3 separate regions of the Homo sapiens genome follow, and regions 2 and 3 are each linked to region 1. The links come from fine-mapping of genetic effects on gene expression. A gene starts in region 1. Each other region holds a variant in brackets. All regions are shown on one strand. Distances are from middle to middle. Region 1 holds the start of RUBCNL (rubicon like autophagy enhancer). Region 2 holds the start of LINC01198 (long intergenic non-protein coding RNA 1198). Region 3 overlaps RUBCNL (rubicon like autophagy enhancer).

Region 1 (7,207 bases):
GTTGTTCATTGTACTATTCTATGTTTAAGTTTGAAATTTTCCATTAAAAAATTCCCGTTTAAGTTTTCTAAAAACCTTCAATTTGCTACATCTGTCCAGGAGTCCCTAGGTTGCCTATCTGACCTCCTTATCTGCTACCTGGACACCTCTATGCCCCTCTACCCATACTCTCTTGTGGATCTTTATTCAAATGAAGACCTTACCCATCACCTTCAAACTGAGACCTTTCCCATCACCTATGACAAAACCACATCTCTACAGATAACCACTCTCTCCATGTACTGCCCCATAGCCTTCTCTACAGCATTCATCTTCTGACACCTTCCTCCTCATCAATTCATAACTAATGCTTATATGACATTTACTTTGTGCCTGGCACAGTTCCAAATTTTCTACACACACACACACATCATTTCCTTATGCCTTGATTAGGTCAGAATCCTTCATGGTGCTTCAGATTATTAGCAACCTAGCCCAGCCCCCAACAAAAATGAACTCTCTTGGTTTCTACACAGCAACATCCAAAGGGCAGCTGGAGGATGGGGGTAGGGTGAAGACTATTAAAGCTATCTTGATTAAGAAACAGTCAGTATATGAGCCAAACCCACAAGTCCAGGTGGCACTGTTTGGAAAAACAGAAAGCAAGAAAACTATCATCTGTAATTTCACAGTATAATAGACGACACATGGAGTGAATAATGAATTGTTTCTGCTATACTAAGACACATAGCCAGCCTACTTGAGGAGCTATTTTCAAATGACCAAGACCCAGGAGGCCCAGGCTAAACTAATTTAGCCCTAATTCTACAAGCACAGCGGTGAACAGAAGATCTTTAAATCTTGTGGACTCAAATATCTCTTCAGAATATTAATATTCACACAGCATGCAGCAGACTGCCTATACCTTGGCAATGCTAATGACATTGACATGTCTACCTCCCTGAGCCCAGATCACCATAAAACCAAGCCTAAACTAAAAGTGAGCAACCAAAAAACCCCCAGATTTTTATATAAGTCATGGGACGAATAAAATGATTTAACAATTGAGCCATATTTTTAAAAATACTTGCAAAATATGCATATAGATAAGTGCTAGTCCCTTCACTTAACAAACTTAAAAGTCCCATGCCAAAAACTTCTAAGAATCATTTCCAAGTAAATACAGAGAGAATAGGGAAGTGCCCTAAACATATTTTTGGAATTCAGTTCTTTTCTGATCAACTCTAGCTTGTCGGAATAAAAGAACGTAAAAAAGTATAAGAAGAATACATTTCTTTATAAGAATAATACAATACCTTTGAATACAATTCTTCTTATACTTACTCTATAATTGTACTTACTCTACAGTTTTCTGCAAACGTACTTACTCTACAATTTTCATCATCTAAAATCAACCAGCAAACAGTACCTGCTTACTGTGGGTGCTTTTCAACGTTACCTGTTAAAAAAAAACGTTGAGGTCTAATTTACATTTACTTCTTTTAATAAATATAAAGCTAAGGATCATTGGAATGAATGCATTTTTGAACAATTTTTCAACATAATTGTTGGAAAAATCACATTAAGTGTATAGTTTATTCTAACTTCTATTCATTTTCCAGCCTACTGATGACAAAAAGGCTTGAATCTGAAACTTTTCTTTCTACACTCTGAGAAGTATTTTACCTTTACGGAGCAGACTTTGGGCTCAGTAGAAACAAAGGATTCATTCAATGTAGAATTATTATCATCATTTTACGGGTTAGAAAAGGAAGTAAAGTGATGACCACATAGCCACTCAGCAGCATGCTCAAGTCCAAACCCTGGAACCTTGTCCATAGCCCCTAGTCTCACCATCCATGTTGCCTCCGTGTGTGGGATAAAAGACAATGCAAAAGTTAAAACACTCGCACACACAGGACCCAATTAAATATAATTTTAACGCCAATCTGAGAAAAATGACTTATTAGCTGTGTGATTTTGAGCAATGCTCTTAACCTCCCCCATGAAGGATGGTGTGAGAACGAACAGAATTGTAGCACGTGTATCAGTCTGGTACACAATGTCCTATGAAGGTTAGCTTTATTATCACCATCATTATTATTGCAGAAAGACTTTCAGTTCAGAATAAGACAGCACAGTTACAGAGACCTGGTTTTATTTTCCAGCTTCTTAACTGAGTCATCTTTCAGCTCCTTTTAATTAAAAAGAAAAAACAATCAGAGATCTAATTGGGTATCAGGAAGATACACAATATGACTAACAGGCACTAATATTACTACACTTATAGTCTCTGGAAGGCTGGACATACTTATCCAAGAACTGCCTAAATTTTTACAATGACACACCATGCTAAATCTTCCATATTAGAAATTCCATATTTCTCTCCATACTAGAAATAATCGTTCCATATTAGAAATAAGAACGTAGATTTGGTAACAAGGGAAACTATTCAAATTTGCCAGTGCTATTATTTGTGTGCCTTCAGATGGGTGGGGAAAAAATGTGTCAGCAAGCAATGCAGCCTTTCTTTAGTTTTTTACTTATCCTCTAAAGATCATGCAAAAAAAAAAAAAAACCAACAAACGTTTACTCTTGGATGTTTAACCTTGGCTCCGACAGAATGTTCCTTGTATCAAAAAACAAGAACTCAGCCAACAATGTTTTTGTTGTTAAACGGTTGCATGAAGACTATGTCCAGTCAAATCTAACCCCTCACCCCGCTCCAAGGCTATGACCCTCAATTTTCATCAAAGTTCCTACCATCTCCCACTTTGTAAAGGCCCTAAAGAAGTTAATGAAGAAGGCAAAGTTCCTGTCCTCTGCTGTCACTCAGTAATGAGCAGTTTCATGTGGCAGTGCAGAAACTGGGGTTTGAGAAACAGAGGTGTCCTGACACTCTGGACCGGTAATCACGAAAACCCCAGCACTGCCATAAAGATGCTGTCTTAACTCGGCTCCAAACAAAGTTCTGTCGGCGGCCGGCAGTGTTTCAGTGGGCAGCAATGTGGTGATACCTTCACAGGATACTTTATAGGCTTCAAAACACTTCCCTCCCTCCAGGCCATTAACCTTCTAAACCACACAGTGGGGTATGGCTGGAGTATTCTCCCCCTGAGGCAAGGGAACTGAAGTTCAAGAAGGTTTCTTGACTTGCCAAGATCTCCCCGCTACTTTGGCTTTAAGAAACTGGGTCTAAGAAACTCAAGCTTACGGATTCTCTGTTCTCTGCGCGCTCCCACCACATCTTCAATTCAAAGATCCTTCCAAATTCCACAGAAATAACCCAGTAAGGGCAGCTCTTGAGTATACCTTTTCCTTTGAGTCTTAATTTTCACTCAAGGCGAAATAACCCCTCCTCTGAAAGTTCTCCACGTTTTCCAAGCGGACAGCATCAAGTTCGCAGGGGATCTGTATCAGTCTCAGCAGGTGGACTTCACAAGGGGCGGGTTGGGGGAACGCCCGCCTGACCGTGTCCGGCGTGGCGGGGGGTTGGGGGCGAGAAGAGTGGGGGTTGCTATGTAGGGCGCCCGGACCAAATAACACGCCGCGATTTCACACTCCAGCCTAGCTCAGTTATGTAGCCAAATGTTTTTCTGTCACCACATATCCACGACTTTGGCTGTGTTGAGGACGAAAACAGAGAAAAGACACTGATCCCAGAACACTGCGCCTGGGAGGACGCAGGGCGCAGGCTTTGTAGTCTCTGAGAATCGCCCTGCGTAAAAGTGTCCTGAGGTCCCGCTTCTGCGCCCTTCCCGGCCCAAGCCGAACACAGGGTCAACCTCACTCTACAAAGTCAACCGGATAGAAATCCGCCACCCCGCGAGGAGCCCCTTCCTACTGTCTCCAAGGGGTCCCCGACACTGCTCTGAGCGACCCTAAGATACCTGGGTGTCTCTGCTGGGCACAAACCTCTCTGGCGCCACTTCCACCATCCAACCTCTCCCGCGGCCCTCCCTTCCCTTTCTCCAACCACCCTCTCCACCCCGCGCCGCTCCCATCTCGCCCCCGGCCCCGCCAGCCTCACCCAGCCAAACCCGAGCGGTGGAACGCTGCGCTGGGTAAACGCCGCGCGTCGGGTCCTCCCTCGCGCGGCTCCGGGCAGCGTTCCGTGGCCACCGCGCTCCCGGTAACAGCAGAAAGGGGAGGGAGGAGAGCTACCGAGGAGGGGACAGCGACGCCCCGACGCCGCCACGCCCCCCGCCTCCCACACGGGGGCCACCGTAGCTCTCTAGAAGCTCCTCAGGGAAGCAAAGCGCCGTTCCCGCCGCAGGCACCGAGACGTCGCCCAGATGGAAGAAACTCTGGAGATGCGCGCTCCTACACCGGTGCCGCGGCGCCCGGGCCCAGCACCACGCACCTATGCGCGCCTCTGCCGGTCCTCCTAGAAATCCCGCCCTGCCTACCCGCGGCGCGAGACGCAACGACGCTTTCAGGGGTCAAAGACCTGGCAGAAATGACTTCCCAACCCCAGATGCCCCCAGCAGCAGTATTTAGCAGTCATACAATTGCCTGAAATGAAGAATGAGTAATCTGGATGAGTCGGCCCTGAAATCGACCTGCAACTTACCCGGAACGTGAGCTGTCTCTCTCTGACCTCTGCTGGCTGCTTCACCTGGAGTCTGAGTCCGACTCATGTAGCACTTCACTGTCCGCGTTAGTTTAGCCTTCACTGTCAGCAACTCGTCACCTTGTCCTCTTGCAGCGAAGGTTTGGAATCCCATCACGGGTGTGCAGTGGTTAGTCCTGAGATCATGGTGGTGCTAGGAGAACCTGCCAACCAATACAGAAAGTTGTCACGAATAGAAACCTAAGCTCTGGCCGGGTGCGGTGGTTCAAGCCTGTGATCCCAGCACCTACTTTGGGAGGCCAAGTCGGATGGATCACTTGAGGTTAGGAGTTCGAGACCAGCCTGGCCAACATGGTGAAAGCCTGTCTCTACTAAAAATATAAAAATTAGCCGAGCGTGGTGGCGGGTGCCTGTTATGCCGGCTACTAGGGAGGCTGAAGCAGGAGCAACCCGGGAGGCGGAGGTTGCAGTAAGCCGAGATCGCGCCATTGCACTCCAGCCTGGGCGACAGAGCAAGACTGTCAAAAAAAAAAAAAAAAAAAAACAGAAAGGAGAAGAAGGGAAGGAGGGAGGGAGGGAGGAAGGCAGGCAGGCAGGCAGGAAGGAACCCAAGGGAGGGAGGGAGGGAAGAAGGAAGGAAGGAAGGAAGGAACCTAAGCCAAGGAAGGAAGGAAGGAAGGAAAGCAAAGAAAGGAAGGAAGGAAGGGCGAAGGAAGGAAGGAATCTAAGCCAAGGAAGGAAGGAACCTAAGCCCAGGAAGGAAGGAAAGAAGGAAGGAAGGAAGGTAGAAGGAAGGAAGGAACCAAAGCCAAGGAAGGAAGGAAGGAAAGAAAAGTAGAAAGGAAGGAAGGAAGGAAGGAACCTAAGTCCCAGAAGGAAGGGAGGGAGGGATGGAGGAAGGAAGGAAGCTAAGCTCTCTCTCGCGGTGCCCTGACTTCTCCCGGGGAAGGACCTCTGAGCTGCCTGCACTGGTAATGACACGTAGGTGAACCGGTCCTGGCTTTCTTAGAAGATTCCCTGCTGCATAAAACCAAATCCCGTTGCACTTTCCTGGGTTCCTTGGCTTTGTCCTTTGTCATTTCCAGGATGGAGCAGAGGCACTGGTAATTTGGCTTTTACTTGCCTGGTACCTCTGGCATGGAGTGGCTAAACGGTGGCACCATGTACTAGTTGCTGCCATCTTCAGATAAAATATTGAATCAATATGACAAAAGTCAGATGAATACTAGCTGCCAATTACCCTGCTTCCCTTGGGGGCAGCCTGTTTGGAGCATAGACCAGCTTTGACCTGCAAGAACTCTGGATATTTGGAATATTTAAAATTCCAAATACAGTATCCCAGGAATTCAGGTCAGCTGAAGGCCGATTGGGAAGGGCTTACCTTAAATGAATCAGAAAGAAAAAGGTGTGGGTGTGTGCTAACATTTTTTGAGTATCGGCTATGTGCCAGGTACTTTTTCTTATTATTTTAAGCAAGTCTGTGAACATCCCTGAGAATAACAAATCATTTGTTCCCATTTCGCAAGGGGGAAATCTATGACTTAGGTTCAAATAACTTGCCCAAGGTCACAGAGCTAATAGGTAGCACAGTTAGGCTTTGAAGGCAGGTGTATCTGACACCAAACCCTATGTCCAATTTCCACCATACTACCAGCAAGATGGAAGAATAATGAAATAAAGGGACCAGGCAAGAGCCAGTTTCAGGAATACTTAAAGGGAAAGAGGAGTCAGGAGGAACTTAGAGAAAGAATCTTGAAACAAGAGGAAATGTCATGCCAGGTAAATCAGTGAGTCAAAAACCAGAAACAGCTGTACTAGTTGGCAGACTGGACATAGTCCAAGGCAAGAAAATCGTTTTTGTAGGGAGATTAGGATATTTTGGACCAAGATTGTGGGCTTTAGTCATCCCCTCTGAAGCCACTCTGAAATCACCTTTCTCAAAACTGCCATAAGGCAGGCCTAGGCACTATCACGTGGACATCCTACTAACTCTGAGTATAGACCTTCTACATCTCGTCACAGACGCAGGAGGTTCACATTCTGAAAGAGCATCTCTAGGACTAAGGAGAAACATTCAAGGACAGGTTTTTCAAGTTAGGAATGCTCACTGGAAATCTGCTCTGTCCCCTCTGGGATCTGGAAGTAGAATTTCCCAAGCACTAAATGCTGAGGCGTGGACTTTCCAAGAATTTCCTGATTGGTTAATTCTGAGAATGTCACTGATCATTACAGACGGATCACCATGCAGGAAAAGGAGAGGCTGGTTTGGGTTTTTTCATGGGGAAGGTGAACTTCCAGATCACAGTGCCCTCCAAGACACAGGGCTTGAAAGTCATGAGTGTCAGGGACAACTCACTGTGTCAGCTAGCCCAGCCGGGCTCATGCCCAGCACCCATTGATCACACACAAAGCTCCATTGTGGCCAGGATAGCCTCATAAAAGACCGAAAGCCTAGCAGCTGCCTGCCAAAACCCAGCCAGGCTTCACAAGAAGTGATTTGTGCTGTGAGCAGAGCTTTGACCCCAGTTTTGAACTCAGCTGACAGTCAGCAAAGGGGAAACCAGTCTCTGTACAAAACAGGAAGGAAATGAGATGAAATGAACTGCATTATAAGCTACCAGAGGGTGCCTAATGGCATCTTCACCACATAGAAGT
Region 2 (6,856 bases), 83 kb after region 1:
AGCAGGTTATTTGCAATCTCCCGGAGCCTAAGGGCCGAAGGCAGGCGAGAGAATTCTCAGGGGCTGTGGGGTTTTGTAGATTGTGCATCCCAAACTTTGCAGTATTAGCCAAGCCTTTGTATGAGGTCACAAAGGGGGCGGGGACCGGGAACCTTTGGAATGGGGATCCCAAGAACAGCAAGTCTTTCATGACTTAAAGGAAAAACTTCTGGCAGCCCCAGCCCTGGGGCTACCCGATCTGACAAAGCCTTTGCCATTGTATGCGTTAGAGAGAGAAAAGATGGCAGCTGGACTTTTAACCCAAACTGTGGGGCCCTGGCTGAGGCCGGTGGCCTACGTCTCTGAACAACTAGATAGGGTTTCTAAAGGATGGCCCCCCTGTTTGAGGGCCTTGGCAGCAACTGCCCTGCTAGTACAAGAAGCAAATAAGCTGACTCTTGGGCAAAACCTGAACATAAAGGCCCCCCATTTTGTGGTGGCTGAGAGCCAGCCCCTTTTCCCCCCGTGGCTCTTGGGACCCCCATCGCAGGGGGGGTGGCACCCCCTGCGAGGCGGGGACTGAGAGCCAGCCCCTCATCCGCCACAGGCTCTTAGGAACCCCATCGCAGGGGGGGAGGCAACCCCCCACGAGGCAGGGACTGAGAGCCAGCCCCTCTTCCCCCTCTGGCTCTTAGGGCCCCCATCCCAGGAGGGGGAGGCACCCCCCACGAGGCAGGGACGCAGAGGCAGCCCCTATTCTGCCCCCGGCTCTTAGGACCCCCATCGCAGGGGGGGAGACACCCCCCACGAGGCGGGGACTGAGAGCCAGCCCCTCTTCTCCCCCTGGCTCTTAGGACACCAATCGCAGGGGTGGGAGGCACCCCCAACGAGGCAGGGACTGAGAGCCAGCCCCTCGTCCCCCCCGGCATAGGACCCCCATCGCGGATCCTAAGAACCTTAGGACCCACTTGGAGGACTGTGGGTATTAGGTGTCCAAGAAGAAAGCTCAAATCTGCCGATGGCAGGTACCTTACTTAGGATTTACTATCTGACAGGAGTCCGAACGCAGCCCGGGAACAGAAAGAAAGCAGGTTATTTGCAATCTCCCGGAGCCTAAGTGCCTAAGGCAGGCGAGAGAATTCTCAGGGGATGTGGGGTTTTGTAGACTGTGGATCCCAAACTTTGCAGTATTAGCCAAGCCTTTGTATGAGGTCACAAAGGGGGCGGGGACCGGAACCTTTGGAATGGGGATCCAAGAACAGCAAGTCTTTCATGACTTAAAGGAAAAACTTCTGGCAGCCCCAGCCCTGGGGCTACCCGATCTGACAAAGCCTTTTCCATTGTATGCGTTAGAGAGAGAAAAGATGGCAGCTGGACTTTTAACCCAAACTGTGGGGCCCTGGCTGAGGCCGGTGGCCTACGTCTCTGAACAACTAGACAGGGTTTCTGAAGGATGGCTCCCCTGTTTGAGGCCTTGGCAGCAACTGCCCTGCTAGTACAAGAAGCAAATAAGCTGACTCTTGGGCAAAACCTGAACATAAAGGCCCCCCATTTTGTGGTGGCTGAGAGCCATCCCCTTTTCCCCCCCTGGATCTTGGGACCCCCATTGCCGGGGAGGCACCACCCGTGAGAGTGCTGGGATTACAGACGTAAGCCACCGCGCCTGGCCAATAAATGTTAGCTTTTTAATAATGTATCTCTGGTAGTTGCCTGCTTCACTAGCCCTACACACACACACACACACGTGCACCTGTGCAATTTTCCCTGGTCAGCATTGATGACAGTGAATAAGAAGAATAGATATACATTGTTTCATGAACCTTTGCAGTGTTTGAGGTTTTATAAAGGCACAGGTCCAGTTATACAGACTTGTGCCATCAAACTTGTGCAGCTTTAAATGAGTATTTTTTTTTTTGGCTGGGAGTGGTGGCTCATGCCTGTAATCCCAGAACTTTGGGAAGCTAAGGCAGGAAGATTGCTTGAGCCCAGGAGTTTGAGACCAGCCTGAGCAATGCAGTGAGATCCCATCCCTAAAAAATAATAATTTTTAAAATAAGAACAATTAATTTAAAAAAATAAAATGAGTGTTTTTAAAATTGTATTTTTAAATTGACAATAATTGTACACATTCATGGGGTACATAGTGGTGTTTCCAT[A/G]TACATAATGTATAGGGATTAGATCACATTAATTAGCATATTTATCATCTCAAGAGTATTCTTTTTAATGTGTCCTTTCCTCAAAGAGGAAATCAATATTCTGCTTGCTGGGGAGGGGGAAAGAGGCAGTTGCTATTTATTCTGTGCCCACTGATTTTTTCCCTAATCTAAATGAAAATAATAAACCACATAATCTGTTTGAACCACAAAGATTCTTCCTTATAATATTGTTCCCTTCTCCCTCTGTCATTGCCATAAAAAGCTTGTTCCTTGCCATCTGAATTCTCATAAAGCCCAGCTGGCCTTTGTCCTAACGCAGCAGATCTCAGCTTATTTCCCTTTCAGTGAATCAGATAACATCATCCTTTTTTACTGACTTTCGTACTTAGATTTATGAGTGACTTGGCAATGTGGTAATGTCTACCAATGAATGTCTTTTTTTTTTTTTTTTTAACCAAGAGGCATTTGTAAAAGCAGCTAAATATAGTAATTGCTGGATTCATTTTTCCCTGCTTCCACATACTTTTAGCCAAGGAACTGTGCACTGTCAAGGGCATTGAGCAATAGACAGTATAATGATATGCCTATATGACCTATTTATTTAGAATATTTAGAATCTCTAAACTTCAGTTTGTTCATTTGTAAAGTCTGCATAAGAGTATCCACTTCAATAGTATAATTATAAAAATTAAAATAGCTAGTATGAATATTTAGTATGGAGCTAATTTTGCTTTAAACTACTGATTATCTTTCAAAGATATCTAAATAATAAGAAAGAAAGTCTTCCTATTCACCTATATGGAACCATGGATTGCTGGACCGGCATGGTGGCTCACACCAGTAATCTTAGCACTTTGGGAGGCTGAGGCAGGAGGATCACTTGAGCCCAGGAGTTCGAGACCAGGCTAGGCAACATAGAGAGACACCATCTCAAAAAAAAGAAAAGAAAAGGAAAAATAAAACCATGTATTTACCCATGGAGTCACCATTTCCAGTGCTGTCATTCATAGGTGAGGATGATGCAATTGACCCATTAAAAGACAAGGGCTTGGGGCCGGGCGCGGTGGGTGACTCACGCTTGTAATCCCAGCATTCTGGGAGGCCGAGGCAGCCGGATCACGAGGTCAGGAGATCGAGACCATCCTGACTAACACAGTGAAACCCCATCTCTACTAAAACAATATAAAAAATTAGCTGGGCGTAGTGGCGGGCACCTGTAGTCCCAGCTACTCGGGAGGCTAAGGCAGGAGAATGGCGTGAACCTGGGAGGCAGAGCTTGCAGTAAGCCGAGATCGCGCCACTGCCCTCCAGGCTAAAAACAAAACAAAAAAAAGACAAGGGCTTGGGCCGGGCCTGTAATCCCAGCACTTTGGGAGGCCGAGGCAGGCAGATCACAAGGTCAGGAGATCGAGACCATCCTGCTTAACGTGGTGAAACCCCGTCTCTACTAAAATTACAAAAAATTAGCTGGGCGTGGTGGCGGGTGCCTGTAATCCCAGCTACTCATGAGGCTGAGGCAGGAGAATCACTTGAACCCGGGAAGCAGAGGTTGCAGTGAGCAGAGATCGTGCCACTGCACTCCAGCCTGGGTGACAGAGTGAGACTCCGTTTCAAAAAAAAAAAAAAAGAAAAGAAAAGACAAGGTCTTCAGGCCGGGTGTGGTGGCTCATGCCTGTAATCTCAGCACTTTGGGAAGCTGAGGTGGGTAGATCACCTGAGGCCCAGAGTTCGAGACCAGGCTGGCCAACATGGTGAAACCCTGTCTCTACTAAAAATACAAAAATTAGCCAGGTGTGGTGGCGGCACCTGTGATCCCAACTACTTGGGAAGCTGAGGCAGGAGAATTGCTTGAACCTTGGAGTTGGAGACTGCAGTGAGCCGAGATCACACCACTGCACTCCATCCAGCCTGGGCAACAAAGTGAGACTCTGTCTCAAAAAAAAAAAAAAAAAAAAAAGACAACGACTTCAAGCTGCTTCACCAGCAGTTATCTGTGTCTTTTGTTTTAGGGACAGCTCTGCAGATTTGGGGTAGCATGTGGCCAGGGAACCAAAGTAAATAGTTTGCAAAATGATCAAATTTGTCTTCCTGACATTATCAACGTCTAATTTAATGTTCATCTTTTGGTAATGTTCCAGAAAATAGATTAGACACTTTGGGAGTGATAGCAATTCTTAAACAACATTTTTTTTTCTATACTAAATATAATATGTGCATTGTACAATAGTTGGGATGGAAAAATATTCTAAATGTCTAAATCATATATAATCCTAAAACTTATAACCATTATTAATATTTTGGTATATTTTCTTTTAGTCTTTTTTGCATATATGGATGCACAGTATATATGTTACACATACGCATATTAAAAAAATCATCTTATCAAATATCTAGCTTTTAGAAACAACATTATAGCATCAGCAGCTTTATAATCACTAAATGTCTTTCAAAAAACCTGATTTTGAATGACTGTGTAATAGTCCATAATATGGCTGATCCACAATTTATTTAACCAACACTCACTGCTTAATAAAATTACCATTCCACCACATATGCCAGGGGTACGATTCACTTTTTATACAAAAGAGTGGGCCAAGTTCTATTTATATAGTTGGAAACCAAGGGATACATTAATGGTTTAGATACTAGAAGTGTCAGATGTATAAAGAATGACAGCAAATAACTTTAGTCTCCATTTCTATCGTGACCTTTAAAATTTGGCTTTGTGAAAGGAAAATAAATCTTGGAACCCCAACATCACTAAGCCAAAGGAAAAAGCCAAGCTGGGAACTGTGTCATGCAAACCTGCCTCCCATTTTATTCCTAAATAAGACAGCTACAAAGATTTATTTATTTATTTATTTATTTATTTATTTATTTATTTATTTTAAGATGGAGTCTCGTTCTGTCACCCAGGCTGGAGTGCAGTGGCATAATCTCAGCTCACTGCAACCTCTGCATCCCAGGTTCAAGCGATTCTCCTGCCTCAGCCTCCCGAGTAGCTGGGACTACAGGCGCCTGCCACCATGTCTGGCTAATTTTTTGTATTTTTAGTAGAGACAGGGTTTCACCTTGTTGGCCAGGCTGGTCTTGAACTCCTGATCTCAAGTGATCTGCTCACCTTGGCCTCCCAGTGTGCTAGGATTACAGATGTGAGCCATCCCACCCGGCCCAAAGATTTTTTTTTTGTTTTTTTTTGAGATGGAGTTTCACTCTTGTTGCCCACGCTGGAGTCCAATGGCACAATATCCACTCACGGCAACCTACGCCTCCTGGGTTCAAGCAATTCTCCTGCCTCAGCCTCCTGAGTAGCTGGGATGACAGGCACGCACCACCACGCCTGGCTAATTTTTGGGTTTTTAGTAGAGACAGGGCTTTGCCATGTTGGCCAGGCTGGTCTCGAACTCCTGGCCTCATGTGATCCACCCACCTCAGCCTCCCAAAGTGCTGGGATTATAGGCATGAGCCACCACACCAGGCCAAGATTTTTTAAAAGGCTACATACCTCCCTCACAATTTGTTCATCAGGAAATTCCTTGTGGGCCCCAAGATCTTTACCCTAAAACAGTTCTGTTGAATTTTACCCTGACAATGTAAACTGATAGCTTATCTTCACAGGTACAGGACAAAGGACAGAGCTCTAAGTCATCCCTCTGTACTCACCTAAGACAAATGCATATCTGATTGCTTCCTCTGTAAAAATGCACATTCACTGAGCTAGACTAAGGCGTAAGTGACTACTCCTTTACCCTCCTCTCACGTGTAAATTGCGTATTTGGTGAAAGGCTGATCAAAGACTCAAAAGAATGCAACCATTTGTCTCGTATCTTTCCACACCTTGTAAACATTTCTTCCTCTTTCCCCAGTATCCGCTCTTTCCCCTTTAAATATTAAAGCCCTCAAAATCATCTCTGGAGAAAGGCACAGACCTGCCTCTCAGCTGCATATACTTAACCTTGGGCAATTTATCTCTAAATGGATTGAGACCTGTATCAGATATGTTTTGGTTCACAACTTGAAGGAGATAGATGATGCAGTGACTGATGTGTTTGCCTATGGTGATAAACAGTAAGTTTTACCTTGATTCCTACATTTAGTTTTTCACTCACATGTTCCCAGCAGATCCTAAGAGGTAGCAGCCTTGTTGGTGAATGAGTTATTTGTTCATTCAATAGACTAAGTTCTCTGTGTTGCTATTTCCTTTGGCCACTCTGAGTTGTAGACAAATGAATTCTTATTAGAGATGAAATCTGTATTTAATTGTTGAATGAAAGGAATTTTCAAATCAATTTAAATGTAAACTCTTCATATAAATCCAAACATACCTGGCTCTTCCTTTTATCTTCAAAAGTCAGTTGAGTTTTTTTTCATCAAAAATGTTGCATAGGGGCCAGGCACGGTGGCTCACGCCTGTAATCCCAACACTTTGGGAGGTCGAGGCAGGCAGATCACGAGGTCAGGAGTGCGAGATCAGCCTGGCCAATATGGTGAAACCCTGTCTCTACTGAAAATACAAAAACTAGCTGGGCCTGGTGGCACGCACCTGTAGTCCCACCTATTTGGGAGGCTGAGGCTGGAGAATCGCTTGTACCCAGGAGGCAGAGGTTGCAGTGAGCCGAGATCACACCACTGCACTCCAGCCTGGCAACAGAGTGAGACGCTGTATCAAAAAAAAAAAAAAAGAAAAAAAAAGTTGCATAGGGCTGGGCTGCATGTGGTGG
Region 3 (7,207 bases), 37 kb before region 1:
ATCTTCTCCAAACCCGGCAGGTGTCGACCTGAATTCTCTCAATGGCTAGTAGAAGCACTATTCCCTGCACTTCCAAGACAGCCATGGCCTACACTGGACTTGGCATGCTACAATGCCAAATTCTCTTCAATTCTGCACCCAGCCTGAGGTGCCCACTCCTGCGGCATCCTCTGCCTGGAGAATCCCCAATCCCTCTTCTTTGCTCCACCTTACTCTTCAAGCTCAGCCTTTTTCTCCTGGAATCCTTGCTTGCGGTCTACCCTATCTCACTCCTAACTGAGCTAAATGCTGCCTCCGTTTGTATCCTCATGGTCCCCCGACACGTGTCTAACACTCAGTCCAGCAGTGATCGGTTGGTGCTGACCATCCCCCTGGACTTAATACAGATCTACTAATTTTTTTTATCTGAAGCCCAGAATGGATATTCAAGATTTTTTGTACAAGGTAGGAAGTATAGGTATTGTTCTATGTTGTGGATGAAAAAACCGAGGCCCTGAGACCAATGCCACGCCAAGGCCATGAAGCAAAGGCTCAAAACCAAATGACTCCAGAATACATGCTCCTTCCCCCAAAATTTAATTAAAAAGCAATACATCATCATTAAAGATTAGAGACTGAAAAAAACGCTTTAAAGCTAAACCATTTATTTAAAAACTCTATAATTCCACCAAGTACAATAAACAATCTTAACTTCCTTGAGCAACCTATGCTTTTTCTACTTAAAAATCTCTCTCTCAATGAATTCATGCCTAAGTCTTTACTGGTTGTATAGTATTCTATTCTACGGACATGGTATTAATGTAAGTACTGCCCTATTACGAACACCTAGATTTTTAAAATAATTTCAACTTTTATTTTAGATTTGGGGGTATGTGTGCAGGTTTGTTACACAGGTATATCGCAGGACACTGAGGTTTGGAGTATCAATGATCCCATCACCCAGGGAGAGAGCATAATACCTCTTAATAGACTTTTAATGCCTTTTCTTATTTAAAAACAAAACTAGTAACCCCAGCACTTTGGGAGGCTGAGGCAGGCGGATCACCTGAGGTCGGGAGTTTAAGACCAGCCTGGCCAACATGGTGAAACCTTGTCTCTACTAAAAATAACAAAAATTAGCCAGGTGTGATGGCACATGTCTGTAATCCCACCTACTTGGGAGGGTGAGGCACGAGAATCGCTTGAACCTGGGAGGCAGAGGCTGCAGTGAGCCAAGACTGTACCACTGCACGCCAAACTGGGTGACAGAGCTAGACTCTGTCTTAAAACAAAACCAAAAACAACAAAAAAAACTATACTTTAAATCTCTACCTATATCCATCGGTATGTCCTTAGGATAAACTTCCAAAAGTACAATTTTTGAAGACCATGGTTCCACTTGGTTAGACATGCCTCCCTATAAGGGGTTTTAAAAGGCCCCTGGTATACTCATGGTCATATCCACTTTATTCACAATAGCCAAGGAGGGGAAGCAACCCTAGTGTCCATGGATGAATAGATGGATTAAAAAAATGTAGTATATACATACAATGAAATATTATTCAAACTTAAGAAGGAAGGAAATTCTGGCTGGGCGCGGTGGCTCATGCCTGTAATCCCAGCACTTTGGGAGGCCGAGGCGGGCAGATCACGAGGTCAGGAGATCGAGACCATCCTGGCTAACATGATGAAACCCTGTCTCTACTAAAAACACACAAAAAATTAGCCGGATGTGGTTGCGGGCGCCTGTAGTCCCAGCTACTTGGGAGGCTGAGGCAGGAGACTGGCGTGAACCCGGGAGGCGGAGCTTGCAGTGAGCCGAGATCGCGCCACTGCACTCCAGCCTGGGCGACAGAAGGAGACTCCGTCTCAAAAAAAAAGAAGGAAGGAAATTCTGACACATGCTACAACATGAATGAACCTTGAGGACTTTATGCTAAGTCAAACAAGCCAGTCACAAAAAGACAAATACTGTAAGATTCCTCTTATATAAGGCATGTGTGTGGGCAAAATCATGGAGACAGAAAGTAGAATAGTGGCTGCCAGGAGTTAGGCTAAGAGGAAGAGGGAATGGGGAGTTGTTAAATGATACAGAGTTTTAGTTTTGCAAGATGAAAAGAGTTTGGGGGCTGCATGGTGGTGATGATTGCATAACGATGTTAATACTTTAATGCCACTGAAGTGTATTCTAAAAATGGTTAAGATGGTAAATTTTATATGTATTTACCACAATTTAATGATAACAATAATAATAATAAAAAGGTCACTGGCTAGAGTTGTTCATCCTCCAACTAAACCATTCTTCTTAATGAGTTAAATTCTCCATTATACGGTTAGGCTGTGTCCCCACCCAAATCTCATCTTGAACTGTAGCTCCCATAATTCCCACATGTCATGGAAGGAGCCTGGTGGGAGGTAATTGAATCATGAGGCACGTCTTTCCTGTGTTGTTCTCATGGTAGTGAATAAGTCTCACGAGATTTGATTTTTTTTTTTTTTTTGAGACGGAATCTCGTTCTGTCTCTAGGCTGGAGTTCAGTGGTGCGATCTTGATTCACTGCAACCTCTGCCTCCCAGGTTCAAGCGATTCTCCTGCCTCAGCCTCCCAAGTAGCTGGGACTACAGGCATGCAGCACCACGCCTAGCTAATTTTTGTAATTTTAGTAGAGACAGAGTTTCACCATGTTGGCCAGGATGGTCTCGATCTCTTGACCTCGTGATCCACCCACCTCGGCCTCCCAAAGTACTGGGATTACAGGTGTGAGCCAC[C/T]GTGCCTGGCTGATCTGATGGCTTTATAAAGGAGAGTTCCCCTGCAAATGCTCTCTCTTTGCCTGCCACCATGTAAGACGTGCTTTTGCTCCTTGTTCACTTTCTACCATGATTGTGAGGCCTCCCCAGCTATGCAAAACTGTGAGTCAATTAAACCTCTTTCCTTTATAAATTACCCAATCTCTGGTATGACTTTATTAGCTACTTGAGAACAGACTAATGCATCCCACTATTGGCTTAGTAATTCAAAGAGATGGCATGATTTCCCAAGGAAAGCCATGAGGTCATCACTGTGCTAAGAAGCCCTGTGTAATGGGGGAGCCAGATGCAGGAGGCACTAATAGGATTAGCAGATGTATGGAGGGAAGGCAGCCTGTCCCAGCTGAGAATAGTACCTGTTAGCAAACCTACAGGTCTTCAACAGCTTCTTGATATGGAAGAGCTGCTCCTGAATTTCCTAATGGGAGAAACCAAACACGGGGAAAAGTTAAATGTAATAAATGACACGGGAAAAGTGCAAGTCAAATTTAAATGTTATTTCTAAGCTTGAAATGCTGCACTTGTATAAAACAAACCTTGAAAGCAAACCGCCTATACAGCAAGCCTTCACAACTGAGTCTGCTGATCCACAAAGTGTGCCCTGGATGGATCCAGGTTTTGTAGAACCTAAAACTTACAGAACTTTGGGGCCTTCTTCAAGAAAAACATAATACTAAGTATAAGATTCAGTGTGGGGCCTTGGAAAGAGCCTGTGCAGGAGAGGGGCTCCAAAGTGTAAGCTTCACTAATTTTTTTTTTTTTTTTGAGACAGGGTCTTGCTCTGTCACCCAGGCTGGAGTGCAGTAGTGCAATCTCGGCTTGCTGCAACCTCCACCTCCCGGGTTCAAGCGATTCTCCTGCCTCAGCCTCTCGAGTAGCTGGGATTACAGGCGTGTGCTACTATACCTGACTAATTTTTTTTTTTTTAATTTCTAGTAGAGATGGGATTTCACCATGTTGGCCAGGCTAGTCTCGAACTCCTGACCTCAGGCAATCCGCCCACCTTGGCCTCTCAAAGTGCTGGGATTACAGGTGTGAGCCCCTGCGCCCAGCCGCTTCACTCGCTTTATGATCCATTTGCCTCTTAGAGGATGTATCTGTGGGTTCCCCAAGCTAGTGTGATGTGCATTTCCTGCCACAGGACACTTCCAATGAGAGGGATGGGGTTGGGGCTGCGGCTCACCTTCACTCTGTCCAGCTCCTTGGCTTTCGCATACAGGCTTTGGCCGATGCTCAGCAAATTGAAAATGGGCTGGTGCCATATGCTGTCGAGCAGCTGTTTGGAGAAATTGCTGACGTAGTACTTCTTGAAGTCCCACATCATCAGGATTCGGGCAGGGATGCACGACTCTGCATATGAGTGGCAGCAGTCACAGAAATACTTCCCTAGGTATTCGCAGTACCGGAGCCGCTTCACAAACTCTGCCAAGCATACCGGAGGGTGAGTGCCACACCTGGTGCTGAAAACCTATCCTGGTATACCCCGACTTCCAATTCCTACGCAAGATTCAAAGACTCTGATGACTTGTTTCATGATGATAAAGCCATACTCAACCTCATGACAGCTGGGAAGGCTCCAGCAGAGACTTGGGGAATTAAATCATGGCCATTCATGAGCTCTGCTCTTGTGGAACAGACGTCAGAAAAACAAAACCTTCCCAAAATACTCCTGGATTTGGAAGATGGAAATTGCAAACTGCAGTGTAGCAAAAGGAACATTCATTTTAGGATCTGGAAATCTGGGTGGGAGTCCAGACTCCTCTCACTAGCAGGAAGACTGAAGGCAGGTTAGGCTAACTATTCTGAGACCACAAAATGCAACTCAGAACTGGATCGAGTGTTATTACACATAGGAAAAGTGCTTTATAAATTGTGAAGCAGTATATATACAATGTTAGGAAGCAGCATCATAAAGACCTTGATAAATCAATGAGAAAAAAATACAAAAATGCACAAAGGATGGGAATAGGTAATTCACGGAAAGAAGAAATGCAGATAACTAACAGAGAAAAACAATCTCAGAAACAAAAAAATGCATATTTTAAAAGTGAGGCTGAGCACAGTGGCTTGTACCAGTAATCCTAGCACTTTGGGAGGCCAAGATGGGAGGACTGCTTGAGCCCAGGAGTTCAAGACCAGCGTGGGCAACATAGTGGGACCCCATCTCCACAGAAAAAAAAAAAAAATTAGCCAGGCAATGTGGTGTGTGCCTGTGGTCCTAGCTACTTGGGAGGCTAAGGCAGGAGGATTGCTTGAAGGTGGAGGCTACAGTGAGCCATCATCATGTCACTGCATTCCATCCAGCCTGGGCAACAGAGCGAGACCCTGTCACAAATTGATGACAAATAATAAAATTAAATTGAAATGAAATGAAAGAAAAGAAAAGTGAGATACTCTGTTTTGACTCAGCCTGTCATAAATTTAGAAGACCCAGAACTGGTGCAGTATCTAGAGGAGGGCACTTACGTCTAGCACTGATAGAACTAATTTGTAGGAAGACATTTTTGTGATAGACTTCAATTCTCACATGTGTAACAGTAATCCTGCTTCTGTTACTCCATCAGACAGAAGTGCTAACAGGCACACATAGTGATATAAAAAGGTGTTCATTACAGCACATTTATAATGGGGGTGGCAGCCAAAATGTCCATCAAAAGGCAATTGGTTAAATAAGTATGGTGCACTCAACATGAAATGCTGTACAGCCCATAAAGTACACGGAAGAGCATAGGAAGTGGACATCCAGTTACAAATAGGTATAATGTGATCTCAATTTTATTTAAGAACATATATATAAACATACACATAAACATATATTCACTGTCTAAATCCCCACCAAAAAGCCAACAGTGACTATTTCTGGAGGGTAGGAGAAAGAAGGAATTTTTGCTCTTTACACTTTTTTTTTTTTTTTTTTGAGAAGGAGTCTCGCTCTGTTGCCCAGGCTGGAGTGCAGTGGCATGATCTCAGTTCAGTGCAACCTCTCCCTCCTGGGTTCAAGTGATTCTCCTGCCTCAGCCTCCCCGGTAGTTGGGACTACAGGGCGTGCCACCATGCCCGGCTAATTTTTGTATTTTTAGTAGAGATGGGGTTTCACTATGTTGGCCAGGCTGGTCTCAAACTCCTGACCTCAAGTGATCCACTCATGTTGGCCTCCCAAAGTGTTGGGATTACAGGCGTGAGCCACCACGCCCACTGCACTTTCTAACCTACTAAAATAAACACTCATTGACCACTTTTGGAAATGTGTCTAATAAAATACATTAACAAACAAAAGGTATAAAAACTAATGCAACAAATACCTGTGCACTCACCACCCAGCTTCAGAAAGAAAACAATTCAGTTGAAGTCTTCTATGTGCCCCTCCCTCAACACTAGGTTCTGACATGAACCAAGTTTGATATTTATCATTCATAGTTTGAGTCATGTACGTCTTTGTAACTAAAATACCATACAGCATAACAGAAATCTTAGTTGCCATATACTGGGAGGATTAATGAAATCATGGATGGGAAAGCAGCTGCTGTAGAACCCGTACACTGTAGATTCTGAAGATCATTTCCAAATAATGGCTTTAAAAATAAACAAGGCCTGGCCGGGTGCGGTGGCTCACACCTGTAATCGCAGCACTTTGGGAGGCCGAGGTGGGCAGATCACCTGAGGTTGGGAATTTGAGACCAGCCTGACCAACACGGAGAAACCCCATCTCCACTAAAAATACAAAATTAGATTGGAGTGGCGGTGCATGCTTGTAATCCCTGCTACTTGGGAGGCTGAGGCAGGAGAATTGCTTGAACCCGGGAGGCAGAGGTTGCAGTGAGCCAAGATTGCGCCATTGCGCTCCAGCCTGGGTGGGCAACAAGCGTGAAACTCCATCTCAAAAAAATAAAAATAAAAAATAAACAAGGCCTGGCTGGGAGCGACCACAGAAATGAATCTTGCTGAGTACTTACTCTGTGCCACAGATCAGTTAAATGTTTTACATTTACTATGTCATTCTGTGCTCGAAAGTCTGTGAGAGAGGGACAGTTATTTCCCCTATTTCACTGATGAAAGCACAAGACACTGAAGTTAGGCAACACGCAGGGCCACACGAACAGTATGTAGGCAGGCAGGATTCCAACCCAAGCCTGGACTGCGAAAGCTCCAGCCCACAGCCATCATGTCCCACTCCTCCTCCGCTGCATTCGATGGTGGGAAAGGGAGAGGGAGCTAACGCCTTTGCACTTGCCCAAATTGTCCCTCAGACCCAGGTCACACTCTGAGTTGATGTTTAAAAGCAAACAAATAAAGAGTTGTTTTTTGTTATTCATGATAGTTATGTTCTCTAGAGTCGCCATGAACACTGAATTAGTCAATACTGAACCACTGCTCCTGGGGGAAATTCAGGGTTAGGCACCTGTGAGCTTCTGGTAGCAAC

Evidence for each region.
Region 2: its variant is fine-mapped to the expression of RUBCNL in whole blood (INTERVAL, PIP 0.94).
Region 3: its variant is fine-mapped to the expression of RUBCNL in whole blood (TOPMed, PIP above 0.99).

Annotation. Positions count from the first base shown.
Region 1 is chr13:46,383,125-46,390,331 of GRCh38, forward strand. RUBCNL (rubicon like autophagy enhancer) reads right to left here and starts at 4,128. Exons shown (of 15, transcript NM_025113.5): 1 at 4,010-4,128. RefSeq lists enhancers at 3,895-3,984, 4,365-4,644, 4,675-4,774, 4,795-4,904, 6,668-6,807 and 1 more.
Region 2 is chr13:46,466,726-46,473,581 of GRCh38, forward strand. It overlaps LINC01198 (long intergenic non-protein coding RNA 1198), which reads right to left and starts at 51. Exons shown (of 6, transcript NR_120426.1): 1 at 1-51. RefSeq lists a silencer at 6-180. The variant A/G (reference allele first, on the strand shown) is at 2,136.
Region 3 is chr13:46,346,143-46,353,349 of GRCh38, forward strand. RUBCNL (rubicon like autophagy enhancer) reads right to left here. Exons shown (of 15, transcript NM_025113.5): 11 at 3,971-4,209; 12 at 3,144-3,205. Among named protein-coding and RNA genes, the nearest start is that of RUBCNL, 38 kb to the right of the region's middle. The variant C/T (reference allele first, on the strand shown) is at 2,749.